3 linked regions of the Homo sapiens genome follow. The protein of the gene in region 1 purifies or fractionates together with the protein of each later gene. This does not show direct contact. Each region holds a gene or a part of one and is shown on either strand. Other genes may lie near its edges. The genes, in order: CCN6, FRAS1 and COL6A2.

Region 1 (3,654 bases):
TAATTCAGTATGTAATGCTTTTCTCAGTCTACTGTTATGATTTTCTCTTTATCCTTGGATTTCAACAGTGTTACCTTTTGACCTCAGAGATTATCTGGAAATGCTTCAAAATTGGAAAGTTAAAGAGGCATCCGGGGGCAGTTTTGGGAGTGTGCATTTCATTAGAAAGAACACATGAAAAAGCAGGGAGGAGAAAACCAACCCAGGGAGTCCAGCAAATGGCAAGTCATGGAAGGAGAGTGTGTGAGAGCTAAAGCTCAAGAGGTAGGCAGGAGAGGGCTTTGGATAACTGGCTCAGAAGTTTAGGCTGCACAGTATGGACTATGGGGAACCCCTGATGGGCTTTAAGGAGAGGAGTAATACAACCAGACATGTTCTTTAAAGAGATTCCTCCAGGAGCAACATAGTAGATGCACTTGAAAAGTCATTCTGGAGGGAGGAAGGTCAGTCAGGAACTCGTAGTGACGGTGCTTACTTAGTAGCAATGAAATGGGGAAAAGCATCTAGTTCTGGGAAGACGAGGACAATACAATACATAGGAGAGGGTCACTGAATCGTCATAGGAGGTGAGAGGGAGGAAGACAACCCAGATGAATCCAGCTTCCTGACTCCAAACTTTGAAGAGTGAAAAATGATGACTTTTGGACTTGAGTATTTCCTGGAGGACATTTGGGTGGAGATGTCCAGTAGGTAGTTATCTCACGGGTCCAGGGCTCAGTGGAGAAGTCCAGGCTGGAAATTTAGTTTTGAAACTTGCATAGGATGAAAACTGAAGGCAAGGGTGTGGGTGAGATTGCCAAGACACAGTGTAGAATGAGGCAAGCAATACATTAAAGCTATGAAACACCAATAGGCCTAAATTTAAGTCAAATTCAGGGTAACAGGAGCCTGCGGAGGAGATTGAGAAAGTGCGTTGAAAAGTAAGGGGAGGACTGGGGGGACCAGATGTAATGAAATCCAAGGTAGAGGAGAGTTAAATGCCTTAGAGAGGTGGGGCAAGAGGAGGACTGAAGAGGGTTCACGGATGTGAGACCAGCAAAGAGGCCACTGAACCTGGCATCCTGAATCACTGGTGGCTATAGCTGAACCTGTGCAAAACTGAGATGGAGGCAAAATTTTTTTAAGTTTAAAATTTTTTTAGGATTCTAGCTTCACTATTTCTACTCCCTTCTCCATTTTGATGTTTCCTTTTCCCCTGCTCCTTCTCCAGAAGCCCAGCAGTGTCCTATCCTCCCCATCAAAACCCATTCTCACGTTGTGCATGTAACTTTTGAATCACAGCTGAAACGTTACTCTTTACTGAGGCATATGTGTTTTACCAGTAGTAAGAAAAAAGGCTGAGGGTTTAATATTGGGTGGAATTTCCTACAGATACTTCTAAATGTAGAATTTTTGAGCTGCAAATGGACTTAGATCTAGTAATCAATTCAACAGTCCCTGGTTCCATCAAATAAACATTAAGAGTTATTTACATAAGCAAATTGCCAGGCACTGTGCTAGGTGCTGGTGGTATACTCACAAACAAACCACAAGCACCTGAGGTTGGGTGGCTTTACGGCTAGTGGAAGAGATAGGCACTTACATGGGTAATTTCAGTTTAAAAATGTGTGCAAGGCAGGGAAGTTATAGGAACCTTTCTGGAAAAGATGATACTGAAACAGAACCTTGAAGTATCCTTTAACTAGATGAAGAAGGAGCTGGGTCTGGGCAGAATGTCCCAGGCAGGAGGAACAGCATCATATATGCAGGGAACTACAGGCACTTTAACTTTCTGGAACCTAATGCATACAAGAACTGCAAGACACGAGGAGGGCCCTGAATGCTGTGCATAAGTGCTTGCACATTTCCTGTAGGTCAGACACTTTCACGTGTGAAGGATGAGGGAGAGGAAGAAATCCAGATGGTTTTCAGCTTCCTGACTAGGGGACCTGAGTGGATGGTGACGCCATTCACTAAAATGGGAACTGCTAGTTGAGGAGCAGTTTGTCAGGGGGAGGGTACTTGTAGAACCTCAAAGTGCATATGTACCATAGCAACTAATAAGTTGTAAGCTTAAGGGATGAGGTCTAGGCTGGAGAAATAGATGCAGAGATTTGGTGATTTGTTCTGTATCAAAGCTGGGTTGCAGTATGATTTGGACTAGGAAAGGAAGGAGGGTAAGTGTTGAGAGCTTAGGCTCTGGAACCTGCCTGCCTGATTTAAATCAGTCTTCTATCACTTACTTGATATGTCACATAGGACAACTTAAATAATTTGAGTCTCAGGGTCCTCATTTACAAAATGGAGTATACAGTTTCCTATTGCTGCTGTAAGAAATCACCAACTTGAATGGCTTAAAACAACATGATTATCTACAGTTCTGGACATCTGATGTCCAAAAATGGGTCTTACAGGGCTAAAATCAAGCGTTGGCAGGACTGCCTCCCTTCTGGAGGTGGCAGGGGAGAATCCATTCTTTGCCTGTTCCAGCTTTTAAAGGCTGTCTGGCTTCCTTGGACCATGACCCATTTCAGCAACGGCATCGCTCCTACCTCTGCTTCTGCCATCACATCTTCTCTGACATGCCTGCCTCCTTCCCCAGTGGACCCAATGTACTTGTGATTACCTTGGGCCCACCTGGATAATCGAGAGTGATAACCTCAAGATTCTTAAGTTGATCACATATGCAAAAATCCCCTTCAATGTTTTAGGTAACATATATGCACAGACTCCAGGGATTAGGACATGGACATCTTTGAGGGGACCACTATCTGCCTATCACATGGTATAATCACCACTGCACGCTGTTGCTATGAAGTTTGATTGAAATAACCATGTAAAGTGATTTATAAAGATGGCAGTCATCAAGACAGACATTAGGCAAAGATCTTGCTTTCAAGATGCTCACATTCTTGGTGCAGGTATCAGAAAGTAAACAACTGAAATGTGTAGGTAATAAGAAAGGTGGTAAACTCTACGGTGAAAGGACTGGGATAGGGTGCCCTTTCACAAAGAGTGGTCAAAGAGGGCCTCACTGAGAAATTTGAGCACAGACCTAAAGAGAGTAAAAGAGTGAGCCATGAAGATATCTAGGGGCAGAGTGTGCTTGGAGTCAGAGAACAAGGACGCTGGTGTGGCTGGTGTGGAGGCAGCAAGGGGGTGAGTGGCAGTGGGCAAAGTAATATGGGGAGGGGGGACCACAGGATGCAGGGCCATGGTGGCACTTTGAATTTTACATGGAAATGGGAGGCCATGAGGAAGTCACTCCATATGAGCAAAGAGTGATATGAACTGGCTTATTTTTAAAGAATCATTCTGGATGTCAAGTGGACAAAGGAGCAAGGAAGGTGAACACTCAGGAGGCTATTGTAATCATCCAAGTGAACAATGATGACTTGGATTATGATGGTAACAGAGAAGGTATCAATAAATGATCAAGGTGGGTATTTTTAAAGGTGTAATAAACAGGATTTACTGATGGAATTAGATGTAAAATATGAAAGAGAAGAGTCAAGCATGATCTGATCTCAAGGTATTTTGGAAATATATTGGCATTTGCTTAAATAGGGAAGTGTGTGGAAGAGCAGAGTGGAAGGGGAAGCTTGGGAGCTTGTTTTTGGTCATATTAAATTTGCTATACCTATTAAACATCAAAGTGGAGATGTTAAGTAGGCA
Region 2 (3,654 bases), on another chromosome or scaffold:
CTGCAAAAATTTTACTCAAACAGAAAATTATTAGTATATATCTAATCAACTAATAACACTTTTATTAAGCTTCATATTTTAAAACACTCCCAGTGAAATGAAACACTCAACAGATCTTTATGTAAGATCTAGAATACACTGACAGTCTTCTGTCTTTCCCTGAAAAACACAAGAATATCCTCCGTCTTATCATTTAGCTGAAAGACATTAGCTTATCTGTTCTTTCCTAATTCCTCACTTACATTTGACATTAGAGACATTAGCTTAGTCCAGCTGAAATGCCTCAATTAAAGAACAGAGCCCACTTCTCTTTACAGAGATCTGTGTTGCCATAATAACAATAAAGTTGCTTTGAAAAAAAAATTAAGTGTCAGACATTGTGCCCTCCATAAAAGATGACAAATACATGGGGCCCTGTATTTGTTGACTATTTAAGTTGACTATTTAAGTCCTCCTTTCTCTTCCACTTTCACTCTCTCCTTTTTCTTTCTCATTGCCACCTTTAATTACCACTGGTATGTAGATGACTTGCAAATTTCTCTCTGGACACCAGACTCCTCTCTGCACTGCCTGCCCATCTATACAGTGGTCAACCTGCTCTTTCTAAGACAATTTATACCTAACATAGCCAAAGCAAAGTCACGAGCACCAAACCTTGCCCAACCGGCTCCTCTTATATGTCCCTTCCTAGCAAGAGGCATCATCATCCATCTTTCAAATGGCCCCACTGTCTAATCAATCCACTGCCAAATCCTATCAATTCTCACTCATCTGTCAAATCCATCCGCTTCTCTCAAACTTCACTTCATAATCGAAGCCCAAGCTCCCATCATCTCAGCCAGCCTACCCCAAGGGATTCCCAACCAGTCTCCTTACACACTCTCTTCTCTCCCTTTAGGTAAAGAAGGTGAGAGGAGAAGAACGGTTGGGATACCAAAGCTGAATATAGAACATGATGCTTGGAGACTTCTTTTTGTCATGAAGCAAAATGTAAAGACTGAGAAGCTAGACAACAACTTCCCCTTTGGCAGTTAAAACTTCAATGGAGGTTAGAGAGACTGTGAAGAACAAAGTACTATGGGAGGGGAACATAGGAAAACTATTTAATACTTGAAGAAGGACACCAGTGAAAAGCAAAGTTGGGAAGAAGTAGGAAAGTGCCACAATTGCTTGCAGCCATGTCACAGCCCTTGCTGGAGCCTCCCCCAACCCCACTACCCCACCTACCTGGCCAGCATACTCTACATAGTCCTGTTGCCCAGGTTGGGAGCTGACCCTGGAGCTGGAGCTGGCGGTGCCTTGCTCGGTGCGACACAGGACGATGGCATATTGGTTCAGGTTCCCAGTCCTCTGCACCGTGACACTGACAGACCCTGCCTTCTCACTGACATTGTAGCTGGAAGCACACAAAAAGGCATCTCTTAAACTATGCCCCATGGTTATGAAAAAACAACTTGTTTAATGCCTGTCTCTTCCATTTGGTTCTTGGCATTAGGTAGTCAGAGAAGAGGAAGTTTGGTTCCTCTAAGAATCCAGGCTGTAAATTGAGGGAATGAGTTCACCTGAACAATCAGAGCACGAAACAAACAGGGAAGCTGTGGATGCAGAATGTCGTCTTCCCTGCTTTGCAAGCAAGCTAAGAGTCATTTTGGGAGATGGACAGCACATAGGAGCAATGAACTTCAGATTTCAGGGCACAGAGAAAGGAAAAACAATCTCTCCCTCCTGGGGTTGAGTAATCACAATAGGTCAGTGGGTTCTTAGGGAAGAAAGCTGCTCTGAAGGCAATCAATGACTTAGGTGGGAACTGACTGGACCAGATCTCCAGGAACTGTGTGATGGAGTCAGAGCAGAAGCAGAGGTAAGAAAATGTGAGGTAAGCCTACATAACAGAGATGTTTAGACAAATAGAACTTTATGACAATGGGGGAAGGACATGATTAATTTAGCTTGCTGCTCAGAATCTCTATTGCATTTGTAAAGTAGAAGGCCAACTATTCATATGCTATTGATTCATAATAAGTATCTAGGTTTGGAAAGGCCACAGAAAGTAGGGCATGAGCTGGGCTTTGTTTTTCACCACTGAGGATGGCCCCTAGACCTGGGTGCATGTCTTGTTGCTGTGAGGACAGCAGGGAAAGTGACTCTGAGAGCTCAGTCCTCATTGCCAGCTTTGGGACCGTCTATACCACTTAGTCCATTAAATGTTAGAGGGTTGTCCAGAAAAAGGGATGAATTTTATTGAATTTATTGAATTTTGAAGGTGATACAATTGAGAGGTAAATAACAGCAAAACATTACATATGTAAAAGTTGATTCTAATTTTCCTCTAATTCTCCAAATGTGTGTAAGAGTAGAATAGCCTGAATTTGGGGCACATGAAATCAAGGTTTTAAGTCTTCCTTTTTTCCCCCAAGTTCCAATTTTTATCTGAATTTTCATGAAGTTGATTTCTTGGATAGTGAGTCTCTGAAATGTAGACTTAAAGAATATTTCCCCCACATAAATTATAATCCTAGTTATAATCTAACCTATAAAATCAGCACCATGCTTGCACACTACCTTTAACAATCAGTATCTCTCTGTTTGCCTTTCTAACTCTCCAACAGATTAGAAAAGCATCTTAAAGGGCTGTCCACATTAAGCCATGCATTTAGCCCTACAGATATACATTCCTACCAAACCCAAAGAAGCCAGGGGAGAAAACAGGGTTGGGAACAAGGAGAATACAGATGGAAGGTGAAGATATTGATAGTGTGGGCCAGTGATTATTTTCCAAACTTGAATGCCTATTTTTATTTTTCCTATCAGTTCTACTAGACTCTCTTCTAAAACTTGAAGAGACAGAAGCAAAAACATTTGTCTGAGCAGCAGTAGAGCACATCGTTAAGATCACTGGGCTTACATCCTGGTCTTACTTCTTATTAGCTATGTGACTGTGGACAAGTTACATAAACAAGTTTCTGTCTCTATTACTTTGCCACTGTGGAGACAGGAATGGAATTCATCTCAGAATTCCAAGTATTATATAAGATGATGCATGTCGAGTCCTAGTGCAGCACCTAATACATACAGTACTCAATAAATATTTGGTGAAATTATTACTTTTATCACTGCCATCATCACCATCACCGCCATCAAGAGGTGACTAGAGCTGCCCCCCAGCATCCTTCATCCTGACTCCCTCTGCTTGCCTGATTGATTTCTCAAGAAGGAAAGCACAGTAAAACTTGTACCTGGTATATTTAAAGCTGATGAGTGACCACTGGATATGGAAGACATTGTCGCTGACCACATTGGGTTTACTGTCTTTCACCAGAAACTGAAAACTATCCATCATCTCACGGATCTTCTCCTTGTGCAACACATAACGAATCAACCCCAAGTTCACATCCTCTGTGAGAAAAAAGACTCACTGTGAATTAACCCAGGGATGTAACGACAGCTTCATAGATTACCACACCAACAAACCTAGTTTATTCTTCTAATGTATTACAGACAAAACTTATTTTTCCAAGCACCAAAAGTATAGTAGTTGTTAAAATAAATGTTTCTGTCAGATTTTAAAATAAAATCCTGAAGCTCTGTGAAAAAAAAGATCTGTCTTTAAGTACAGAGATATTGTAAATATCTCTTATGCTGTTATAAAATGAG
Region 3 (3,654 bases), on another chromosome or scaffold:
AGAATTAATTGCCTCACTGTTTCCCACGGTGGCTGCACCATTTTGCTTTCCTGCCAACAGTGCACAAGGGTCCAGTTTCTCCACATCTGCACCAACAGGTGTCATTTTCCGGGTTCGCTTGGTTTTTTTTAAATGTTAACCATCCTAATGGGTGTGAGGTGGTATCTCACTGTGGTTTTGACTTGCATTTCCCTCATGATTAGTGACGTTGAGCATCTTTTCATGTGCTTGTTGGCCATTTATATATCTCTTGGGAGAAATATCTGTTTAAGTCCTTGACCTATTTTTGAATCAAGTTGATTGTTTTTTGTTGTTGAATTTTAGGAGTTCTCTGTATATTCTGGATATTAATCCCTTATTAGATACACAGTTTACAGATATTTTCTCTCATTCTCTGGGTTCTTTTTACTCTGTTAATGATGTCCTTTCACTAGATAGATGCAAAAAATGTTTTTAAATTTTGGTGTAATCTGATTTATCTATTTTTTCTTATTGTCATACCCAAGAAATCATTGCTCAGTCCCATGTCACGAAGGTGTTACCTTATGTTTTCTTCTAAGGGTTTTAAAGTTTTAGGTCTTAAAACGTAAAGATCCATTTTGAGTTAATTTTTGTATATGGTATTAGGTAAGGGTCTAACTTCATTCTTTTGCATGTGGATATCTAGTTGTCTCTGCACCGTTTGTTGAAAAGACTGTCTTTATCGAATGGTCTTGACGGCTTGATTGAAAGTCATATATGCAAGGGTTTCTTTCTGGACTCTCTGTTTTATTCTGTTGGTCTGTATGTCTGTCTTTATGCCAGTGCCACACTGTTGATGACTGCAGCTTTGTAGTAAGTTTTGAAATTAGGACATGTGAGTCCCCCAGCTTTGTTCTTATCTTTCACGATTTTTTTTTTTTTTTTTTTTTTTTTTTTGGCTATTCGAGGTCCCTTGAGATTCCATCTAAATTTTAGGATTTATTCACTATTTCTGAAAAAAAAAACAATCACTGGGATTTTTATAGGGATTACATTAAACCTCTAGATCAATTTGGGTGGTATTGACATCTTAATATAGTAAGTCTTCCAATCTATGAACATGAATGTCTTTTTTTAAATGTCCTCTTCAATTTCTTTCAGAAATGTTTTGTAGTTCTCATTGTACAGGTCTTTCACCTCCTAAGTCAATTTTTAAGTATTTTATTATTTTTGATACTATAGTAAATAGAATTGTTTTCTTAATTTCCTTTGGATTGTTCATTGTTAGTGAATAGAAATACAAGTGATTTTTATGTGTTTACTATGTATTCTGCTATTTTGCTGAATTTGTTTATTAGTTGTAACAGTTTTTGTGGAATTTTTAGGGTTTTCTACATACAAGATCATATCATCAGTGATCAGAGATAATTTACTTATTTCTTTCCAATTTGAATGCCTTTAATTTCTTTTTCTTGCCCAATTGCTCTGGCCAGAACTTCCAGTACAGTGTTAAATAGAAGTAGTGAAAGCAGGCATCCTTCCTTTATTTCTGACCTTAGAGGAAAAGCTTTCAGTCTTTCACCACTGAGTATGATGTTCACTGTGGCTTTTTCGTATAATATGGCTTTTATTATGTTAAGGTTGTTTCCTTCTATTCCTAATTTGTTGAGTGTTTTTATCATGAAAGGGTATTGAATTTTGTCATATGGTTTCTCTGCATCAACTGCAATGATCATGTGTGAGTTTTTTTTCCTCCTTCATTCTGTTAATGTGTATTACATTGATTGATTTTTTTTTTTTTGTATGTTGAACTATCCTTGCACTCCAGAAATAAATCCTACTTGGTCAATTCATTAAATTCCATTTAATTGCATCAAATTATACCAAATTTAGTTTACTATTAATAGTATTTTGTTTAGGATTTTTGCATCAATGTTCATAAGGAAGACTGGATTGTAGTTTTCTTTTCTTGCAATATCTTTGTCTGGTATTGGTATCAGAGTAATGCTGGCCTCATAAGAATGAGTTAAATAGTGTTCCCTTCTCTTCAAGTTTTTTGAAAATTTTGGGAGGGTTTGGTGTTAGTTCTTTATGTGTTTGGTAGAATTCACCAGTGCAGCCATCAGGTCCAGAGGTTGTTTGTCAGGAGATTTTTGAGTATTGATTCAATCTCCTTACTAGTTATGTCTATTCAGATTTTCTATTTCTTCATGATTTGATTTTGTCTTGATAGGTTTTGTCTGTCTGGAAATTTTTCCATTCCATCTGTGTTATTCAAATTGTTGACATATAGTTGCTTATAGTACACTCTTATAATCTTTTTTATTTCTGTAGAATTAGTAGCAATGTTGCCACTTTCACTTATAATTTTAGTAATTTGAGTTTCTTCTTTTTTTCTTAGTCTAGAATCTAGCTTAAGGCTGGTCAATTCTGTTATCTTTTCAAAGAACCAACTTTTGTTGTCATTGATTTTCTCTATTATCTGTCTGTTCTCCATTTTGTTTATCTTTGCTCTGATCTTTATTTTTTCCTTCTTTCTGCTAGCTTGTTCTTTTTCTAGTTCCTTACATTGTAAGGTTAAGCTCCTATTTGAGACCTGTCTTTTTTAATATAAGCATGTATAGCCATCAGTTTCCCCCTTAGCACTGCTTTCACTGTCGAACAAGTTTTTAAATTTGTGTTTTCATTTTCACTCATCTCTAAGTATTTTATAATTTCCCTTGTGATTTCTTCTCTGATCCTTGGTTATTTAACAGGGTGTTGTTTAATTTCGTGATTTTTTAAATGTCCTTGTTGCTGATTTTTAACTTTACTCCTTTGTGGTCTGAAAAGATATCTTGTATGATGTAGATCTTTCAAAATCTATTGACACAGACTTTGTTGTTGCAACTAACCCCGTCATTGCAAGCCCTTCTCCGTCTGGTTGAAGTGACTTCCAGGAGATTTAAAGGGCTGGCACCCTTTTCTCCCTTCATTTTTCTCTTTTTCCTCTTTTGAGACGTAGACATTGAAGACTAGCACATTCAAAAGCAACCATATATGTGGAGAAAATAAAAAAGTCATTGCACATGCTCAGGGGAAGTCACGGGCTTAGAAAAGACCTAAGAAGACCTTAAGTTTATACTTTATGCTGATCCTTAGCACAGAGACAGCAACAATCAAAATTATAAAAACAAGAAAAACCAGCAAACTCTGGGGAAGAAAGAGATTTTGATTTCACAAGGCATACAAAGAAACTTTCCTATTTCAAAGGAAAAAAAAACAACAGAAACTGTCACTGAAAAAGACTTGGTGGTAGATCTACTAGACAAAGGCTTTGAAAGAACTATCTTAAAGATACTCAAATAACTAAGGGAAAATGTGGAGAAAGTGAAAGAAAATGTAGGAACAAATGAAAATATCAATAAAAAGCTAGAAATTTTAAAAAGAAACCAAAGGGAAATTCTGGAGCTGAAAAGTACAATAACTGAAATTTAAAATTCACTAGAGAAATGCAAAGGCAGATTTCAGCAGGCAGAATAAAGAATCAGGGAACTTGAAGATACAAAAATGGAAATTATTGAGTCTGAGGAGCAGAAATAAAAAGATTGAATAAAGGTGATCAGAGCCTAAGGGGTCTGTGGGATACCATCAAGCAAACCAACATAAACATTGTAGGAGCCCCAGAAGAAGAGAGAGCAAAGGGAGCAGAGA

The links.
Region 2: the proteins of CCN6 (region 1) and FRAS1 purify together in Homo sapiens (affinity purification with mass spectrometry; one large-scale study listed by BioGRID and IntAct). This does not show direct contact.
Region 3: the proteins of CCN6 (region 1) and COL6A2 purify together in Homo sapiens (affinity purification with mass spectrometry; one large-scale study listed by BioGRID and IntAct). This does not show direct contact.

The regions. Positions count from the first base shown.
Region 1 is NC_000006.12:112,056,955-112,060,608, forward strand, and holds part of CCN6 (cellular communication network factor 6 isoform 1 precursor), read left to right. Parts: intron 1-3,654. UniProt on the Homo sapiens protein: Plays a role in mitochondrial electron transport and mitochondrial respiration. Through its regulation of the mitochondrial function may play a role in normal postnatal skeletal growth and cartilage homeostasis.
Region 2 is NC_000004.12:78,473,180-78,476,833, reverse strand, and holds part of FRAS1 (extracellular matrix organizing protein FRAS1 isoform 1 precursor), read right to left. Parts: intron 3,397-3,654; coding exon 3,237-3,396; intron 1,397-3,236; coding exon 1,228-1,396; intron 1-1,227. UniProt on the Homo sapiens protein: Involved in extracellular matrix organization. Required for the regulation of epidermal-basement membrane adhesion responsible for proper organogenesis during embryonic development. Involved in brain organization and function.
Region 3 is NC_000021.9:46,100,958-46,104,611, forward strand, and holds part of COL6A2 (collagen alpha-2(VI) chain isoform 2C2 precursor), read left to right. Parts: intron 1-3,654. UniProt on the Homo sapiens protein: Collagen VI acts as a cell-binding protein.